2 linked regions of the Homo sapiens genome follow. The protein of the gene in region 1 purifies or fractionates together with the protein of each later gene. This does not show direct contact. Each region holds a gene or a part of one and is shown on either strand. Other genes may lie near its edges. The genes, in order: RAB40A and LYRM7.

Region 1 (4,183 bases):
TCTATCTCACAGATAATCAAGCTCAGGCTTTCAGAGCCTAAGTCACCTTCCCAGGTAAGTGGCAGGATTGGAATGAGGTTTCATCCCTCACCCTCCCTAAAGGACCCTGAGCACCCCCTTTTAGAAGATGGGCTTCCAGGGCTTGAGAAATGTCAGATTCCACTCCCCTGCTATTGTGGCCCCATGGGTCCCCCACTCCACAACCCCTCTGGGTGATGAGGAAGACAGAAGTGAAATCCTGCACTTTATGCCAAGAGACTGGGTGTGGGACCGTATGAGTTGGCTGATCCCTTAAGTGGTGAGTGGGCTCAGGCAGAAGCTTAGGTGTTGGCCTTGGGACAGGTGAGCTGAAGAGAAGGAAAGTAACCTGCACTGAACTACTTTAGGCAAATGCACTCTATATTTCATCTCCTTTATCCTAACGGCTGTTCAAGGTACCGATGATTATGATCATTATTCCAATCAGGGTGCTGTCTTTAAGGGAGTTTGTGTAAATCAGGGAGAGAACTTTATTATCTCCTTATTGTCAGCTAAATCTGGAATTAATCTAAAGGTTTTTTTTTTCTCTATTTGCCCTGAAGCCCACAGAGAAATAGAAATGTTTTTCTTATCCTTTATTCACGTTTGTTCTGTATTGATGAGTATTTAGAATGTTTCTCATTTTTTCCTTTTTAAAAAGATTTCAGCAATGCTATTTCAAATAACCACTTACCTGGCTATTTTGGACATGTGAAAATTTTTTCCTCCATTACATTTGTAAACATCTATCCCTTGGGGCTTGATTTCAATAATTTAAACTCCCTTATATGTGTATGAGCATTCTCATTTCTTTAACCATCTTTGTACCTGTTGTAGTTACAATATTTAAGTGTATTTATAACTGATAAGTGTGTTTCCATTTCCTTGATGTATTTGGTCCCTCATCCTGCCCCCATACACAGACACACACAGAGCCTTTTTCTTTTGCATCTTTTTCTTTTGCAAATTAAAAAAAAATTCTTTTTCGGTTTTTTTCTACATTTAAATTTTGTCAGATGATAGGTGATAAAAGGATATTTAGATGGTTTCATTAGCATTCTTTAATGTATTAGTGAGCTAGAATGCATTTTCTTGTGATTACTGGCCATTTGCGTTTCTTCACCTGTGAACCATATACATATTTTTTCAGTTTTGTTATTTTGTTATAGGAGCTGTACATGTGTTAAACCTAAAACCCTTCACTGATGGATGCATGCATTATTTCAACACATCTTTGTTGGGTGAATATTATTTATGAGACACTCTAGCAAAATCCATGTCCTAGATATCTCTTCTGAGATCTTGGCTCTTATATTTATGGGAGATGTCCCCCTGCAGCAAGAAAAGTATTAGTGCCCATGTAAACATGCGTGGCTTGTCAAGGATCACATGCACAGACAGTTCACACTTACTCCTAAACCCGGCATGGCCACAGAGTAGAAAGGGTGTGTAGTGCGTTATATGAGGAGAGCACTGGCTCAGGATTGTGATTTCTGTGATCTCTATATTAATGGCAATGTTTTAAAAAATTACATAACATTTCTGAGTTTGCCTTTTCTCATTTGTAAAATGGAAACAATTATAGCTACCAAAGACAACTGTTCTGAAAGCAAAAGAACAAAATATTTTAAGCGTCATACACAGCATAGGGTACGTACAGTACTCAACACATCTTAGTCCCTTTCCTATCCCATACCCGTCCTTCCTTTAAAGGAGATTCCTTTGACATAATCCAAAAGGCATGGTTCCATAACGATCACATGAAAGTTTTAAGGGAAATGTATAGGTTTCCATGATGAATTAACTGCTGTGTCACTACTCTGTGCTGGGTAAGAAAAAGGAAAACAATCGCTGAATCAGTTTCCTAGGGTTTGTAAAAGAAATCCATCAAAGCCACCACCTCATTTCGCTTTATTTCACAGACTTCCCCATCTCATTTTTTATGTTCTATGCTAATTTCTCAAGAAGAACAGGCCCGGCACCACCTCTGCGCACAACCCCGCGGGCCTGGCTCAGGCGGGAGTGCGGGGCCAGCACCATGAGCGCCCCGGGCAGCCCCGACCAGGCCTATGACTTCCTGCTCAAGTTCCTGCTGGTGGGCGACAGGGACGTAGGCAAGAGTGAGATCCTGGAGAGCCTGCAGGATGGTGCAGCTGAGTCCCCGTACAGCCATCTCGGGGGGATCGACTACAAGACGACCACCATCCTGCTGGACGGCCAGCGGGTGAAGCTGAAGCTCTGGGATACGTCGGGGCAGGGAAGATTTTGTACCATATTCCGCTCCTACTCTCGTGGTGCACAAGGAGTGATCCTGGTCTACGACATTGCAAACCGCTGGTCTTTCGAGGGTATGGATCGATGGATTAAGAAGATTGAGGAACATGCCCCTGGTGTCCCTAAAATCCTGGTGGGGAATCGCCTACATCTGGCATTCAAGAGGCAGGTGCCCAGGGAGCAGGCCCAGGCCTACGCCGAGCGCCTGGGTGTGACCTTCTTTGAGGTCAGCCCTCTGTGCAATTTCAACATCATAGAGTCTTTCACGGAGCTGGCCAGGATAGTGCTGCTGCGGCACAGGATGAATTGGCTCGGGAGGCCGAGCAAGGTACTGAGCTTGCAAGACCTCTGCTGCCGCACCATCGTGTCCTGCACACCTGTGCATCTGGTGGACAAGCTCCCGCTCCCCAGTACCTTAAGAAGCCACCTCAAGTCCTTCTCCATGGCTAAGGGCCTGAATGCCAGGATGATGCGAGGCCTCTCCTACTCCCTCACCACCAGCTCCACTCACAAGAGCAGCCTCTGCAAAGTGGAGATCGTCTGCCCACCCCAGAGCCCACCCAAAAACTGCACCAGAAACAGCTGCAAAATTTCTTAAGGAAGGCACCAAAAGGAAACAAGCTGGAATCGCTCCAGGAAAAACTCTGGTTACACCTGGAAGATGGAAGTCGCATTGTAGATTCAAGAAATTAGTTTTCAGTTTCTCACGGGAACCATGCTGCTTGGGAATGTGTGTGATGCCTTCTGTCAATAAAAACACATTACACAGTTTGACTTTGAATTTCTATTTGGATGTGCATGAAGCTCTTGTTTTAAACGTGTGTTTATAAAGGGGAAATTAGTACTTTGCTCAACTCTTGATAACGTGAAATTTTGAATGTTACTTATATCATAATCACGCTGCAACTTTTTCCTTAAAATAACCGCCTTTGTTAGAATGGTGATATGGCAATGATGAGTATAAATTCAAGGAAATTTGAGAAGCAATGATAGTGAGATAATTCAGTCATCGATAGTACAAGAGGGGCCTTTTTGTAAACCTCCTTTTTAATGTCAAAGCACCAATTTATAAAACACTGCAGATGCATATAGAGATTGTATATAACAGATCTGTCCAGCTTGTGCATGAAATGGATTTGATAAAGTTTTTGCTATGTTATTTACTACATTTGGGGATTAATACGTGATTTATATGTATGTTTTTCTGTAAATCTACTTTTTTTGTACGAGATGTTCTACAAGATATGAAGCTAAGGGAGGAAAACACCAAAGATATCTCTAGTTATGTTGAACATAGCCAATATGGTTTCAATGGATCAATAAGAAAAAACCATTTCAGTAAGGAATGAAATACGTACTTATTTGAGAAAATGTTTCTTAACAGTAAAAAAGTATATATTTTTCTCTTTGGTAAAACGAAAAGAGAGGAAAAATATGTATAGTGTAACCCCGCAAGATGAGGCTTTGCAGAAAAACAATGCAATAGAACATGGCGGGGCAGGCCCATTATAAGGCCTTAGGTGAGTCATTTCCCCTGTGCTGGCCAGTTTTGGTTAACACCTCTCAGATCAATATAGAGGTTAATGAGATCACATCTGGGAAAGCACTTCTGAGACCTTAGATGGGAAAGAAGGAGAAGTGGTTTCCACGTAGTTACTTTCCAATTTACACTGTTGATTATTATAATAATTGATATTGGATGAACTGAGTAAATATAAGTCCTTGTACTCTTTTGTAATTGAATGACCATTTATTTGTGCATTGTCATAGGGTGATTGTAACAAAGTCCCGCAGAAGGGCAGTATCTCTGGCCTCACGGAGCTGTGGGGACTCACCCTTCCTGAACGCTGGTACTTTTCTATCTCATGAATTTCCCACAACATTCCTGGGA
Region 2 (3,823 bases), on another chromosome or scaffold:
GATGAAAGATCTTGCCTCGATGTTGATGGCTGCTAATTGATCAGATTGGTGGTTGCTAAAGGTTAAGATGACTGTGACAATTTCTTAAAATAGGACTACAGTAAAGTTGACCACATTGATTGACTCTTTCACACACAAAAGATTTATCTGTAGCATGCAATGCTGTTTGATAGCATTTTACCCACAGTAGAGCATCTTTCAAATTGGATTCAATCCTCTCAACCCCAGCCACTACTTTATCAACTGAGTTCATATAATATTCTAAATCCTTTGTTGTTATTTCAACAATGTTTACAGCATCTTCACCAGGGGTGAAGTGATGTGAGTGATGATCTTCATAAACTCAAGAATCCACTTTCTTTGCTCATTCATGAGAAGCAACTCCTCATGCATTTAAGTTTTATCGAGATTGCAGCAATTCAGTCACATCTTAAGGCTCCACTTCTTATCCTAGTTTCACTTGCACTTTCCACGTATCTGCAGTTAATTCCTCCACTGAAGTCTTGAACCCCTCGAAGTCATCCATGAGTGTTCAAATAAGTTTCTTCCAAATGCCTGTTATTGTTGCTATTTTGGCCTCCTCTCTTGAATTCTCTGAATGGCATCTGGAATGGTGAATCCTTCCCAGGAGGTTTTCAATTTACTTTGCCTAAATTCATCAGAGGAATCACTGTCTATGGCAGCTATAGCCTTATGAGTCTTTTAAATAAGACTTAGAAGTCTGGCTCACACCTCTAATCCCAGCACTATGGGAGGCTGAGGTGGGCAGATTGCTTGAGTCAGGAGTTCAAGACCAGCCTGGGCAACATGGCAAAACCTGTCTCTACAAAAAGTACAAAAATTAGCTCAATGTGTGGCATGCGCCTGTGCTCCCAGCAACTTTGGAGGCTGAGGTGGGAGGATCGCTTGAGCCCAGAAGATCGAGACTTCAGTAAGCCATGATCGTACCACTGCACTCGAGCCTGGGTGACAGAACAAGGCCCTGTCTCAAAAAAAAAGGACTTAAAAGCCAAAATTACTACTTGGCCTTGACCTGCGGGGCTGCAAAATGGATGTTGTATTGGCAGTCATGAAAACAATATTAATTTCCTTTTACATCTCCATCAGAGCTCTTGGGTGATGAGGTGTGTTGTCAGTGAGCAGTAATATTTTGAAAGGAATCTTTTTTTTTCTGAGCAGATCTCAACAGTGGGCTTAAAATATCCGCGAACCATGCTTTAAACAGATGCACTTTGTTGATTTGTAGAGCACAGGTAGAGTAGACTTAGCATAATTCTTAAGGGTCCTAGGATTTTGGAATGACAAATTATTGGCTTCAACTCAAAGTCACCAGCTTCAATCTCTTTTTTTTTTTTTTTTTTGGTGATGGAGTTTCGCTATTGTTGGCCAGGGCAGAGTGCAGTGGCGCAATCTCGGCTCACCACAACCCCTGCCTCCCAGGTTCAAGCAATTCCCCTGCCTCAGCCTCCCGAGTAGCTGGGATTGCAGGCATGCACCACCATGCCCGGCTAATTTTGTATTTTTAGTAGAGATGGGGTTTCTCCATGTTGGTCAGGCTGGTCTCAAACTCCTGACCTCAGGTGATCTGCCTGCCTTGACCTCCCAAAGTGCTAGGATTACAGGCATGAGCAACATGAGCAACCACGCTCGGCCTTTTTTGGGTGTGTTTGTTTGTTTTGTTTTGTTTTGTTTTGTTTTGAGACAGGGTCTCACTCTGTCACCCAGCCTGCAGTGCAGTGGTGTCATCTTGGCTCGCCGCAACCTCTGCCTCCCAAGCTCAAGAGATCCTCCCACCTCAGCCTCCCGAGTAGCTAGGACTACAAGCACCCTCCACCACGCCTGGCTAATTTTTTTATTTTTTGTAGATACAGGGTTTGGCCATGTTGCCCAGGCTGGTTTTGTTTTGTTTTGTTTTGTTTTGTTTGAGATGGAATCTCGATGTCACCCAGGCTGGAGTGCAGTGGCACCATCTCGGCTCACTGCAACCTCCACCTCCCAGGTTCAAGCAATTCTCCTGCCTCAACCTCCCAAGTAGCTGGGATTACAGGTGCCCACCACCACACCAGCTAATTTTTTGTATTTTTTAGTAGAGACAGGGTTTCACCATGTTGGCCAGGCTGGTCTTGAACTCCTGTGCTCAAGCGATCCACCCACCTCAGCTTCCCAAAGGGCTGAGATTACAGGCGTGAGCCACTGCATCAGCCTGCGTTAGCTTATTAAGAGCTAATTAAGCTCTTATTAATAAGGATATTTCACATTTTACTTCCCCGTTCATGAGTTCATGGACATTTAGGTTATTTCTACTTTTTCACTATTATGAATAATACTACCATGAACATTAGCATACATGTTTTTGTGTGAACATGTTTTCATTTGTCTTGAGTATATACCTAGTAGTAGAATTTCTGGGTCATAAGATAACTGTAGGTTTAACTTTTTTTAGCAACTGCCAAACTGTTTCCCAAAGCAACTGTACCATTTTAAATGCCAAACAATGTATAAGAGTTCCTATTTTTCCATGTCCTTGTCAACTCTTTTTATTGACTGTCTTTTTTACAGTAGCCATTCTACTGGGATGAAATGGTATCTCATTGAGGTTTAGATTTGTGTTTCCAGATGGCACATGACATTGAACATCTTTTTATGGCTTATTGGCCATTTATGGGTTTTTTTTTTTTTGGAAGAAATATCTATTCAAATTCTTTGACTTTTTATTTTTCTTAATTTTATTTTAGATTCAGAGAGTACATATGCAGGTTTATTACATGGGTAAATTACATAATGGTGAGGTTTGGGCTTCTAGTGAACCCATCACCCAAATAATGAATATTGTACCCAATAGGTAATTTTTCCACCCTCAACCCCTTCCTATCCTCCTCCCTTTTGGCGTCTCCCTTTTGGCGTTCTATCCACAAAGGCGTACCCTTTGCTTAGCACCTACTTATAAGTCAAAATATGCAGTATTTGATTTTCTGTTTCTGAGTTATTTCATTTAGGATAATGGTCTCCAGCAGCTGCTGCAAAGGACATGATTTCATTCTTTTTTAGTATTCTATGATGTATATATACACCACATTTTCTCATTTGTGTCCTATAAAGCAAACAGCTGCCCTCACAGTTCTACTAGCACCTAGTACTTTAACATCTTTGATGTTATTATTGCTATAAAAATTACCCACAGCTGAGCCCTTTAAGTACATTATATGATTGTCTTTTTTCCCATTTCTTCATCTTTAAATTAATAACTGCCTTTTAAAAATTATTACTTTTTAAAAATATCCTTTAATAGATATCCTAGATATCTGTTCCCAAATTCTAGGCAAAACCAGTCTACCAGTTTCATTTTTCCTTGCAATAACTTTCCTGGAGCAATTCAGTCTTTTGCTATAGTCCTGCCTAGTTGCTTTCTAGTCTGGCTGCACAAATGTTGACTAGCATTTGTCCTTCCCCATGGTCTTTGCCTCTCCCATGTTAGACTACCTGTCTCCTGGGTTCCCATGTCTTTTCCTTTTGTGATTCATTTCCTTATTTTGGTGGAGGATATTCTTCTGTAGCTTTCCAATAAAGTGTGTATGACAGATAAGAGACTTTGCATTTCTGAAAATATGTATTTGCCCTTGTCTTTGAGTGATAGTTTGAGTATCTATGGTGTTCTAAAGCAGACATTTTTTCAAAACTTGAATATGTTATTCCATTGTCTTCTTACAGTGGTGCTATTTAGAAATCAGGTACCATTCTGATTTTTTCCATCCTTTACATGTGAAATGTTGATTCTCTGAGATTGTTCTCATTATCAGCATTGCACTGAACTTAACATCATGCT

What was found.
Region 2: the proteins of RAB40A (region 1) and LYRM7 purify together in Homo sapiens (affinity purification with mass spectrometry, with the first as the bait; one large-scale study listed by BioGRID). This does not show direct contact.

The regions. Positions count from the first base shown.
Region 1 is NC_000023.11:103,498,630-103,502,812, reverse strand, and holds the end of RAB40A (ras-related protein Rab-40A), read left to right. Parts: exon of another isoform or gene 1-54; intron 55-1,910; exon of another isoform or gene 1,911-1,986; 5' UTR 1,987-2,056; coding exon 2,057-2,890; 3' UTR 2,891-3,683; downstream 3,684-4,183.
Region 2 is NC_000005.10:131,173,855-131,177,677, forward strand, and holds part of LYRM7 (complex III assembly factor LYRM7), read left to right. Parts: intron 1-3,823.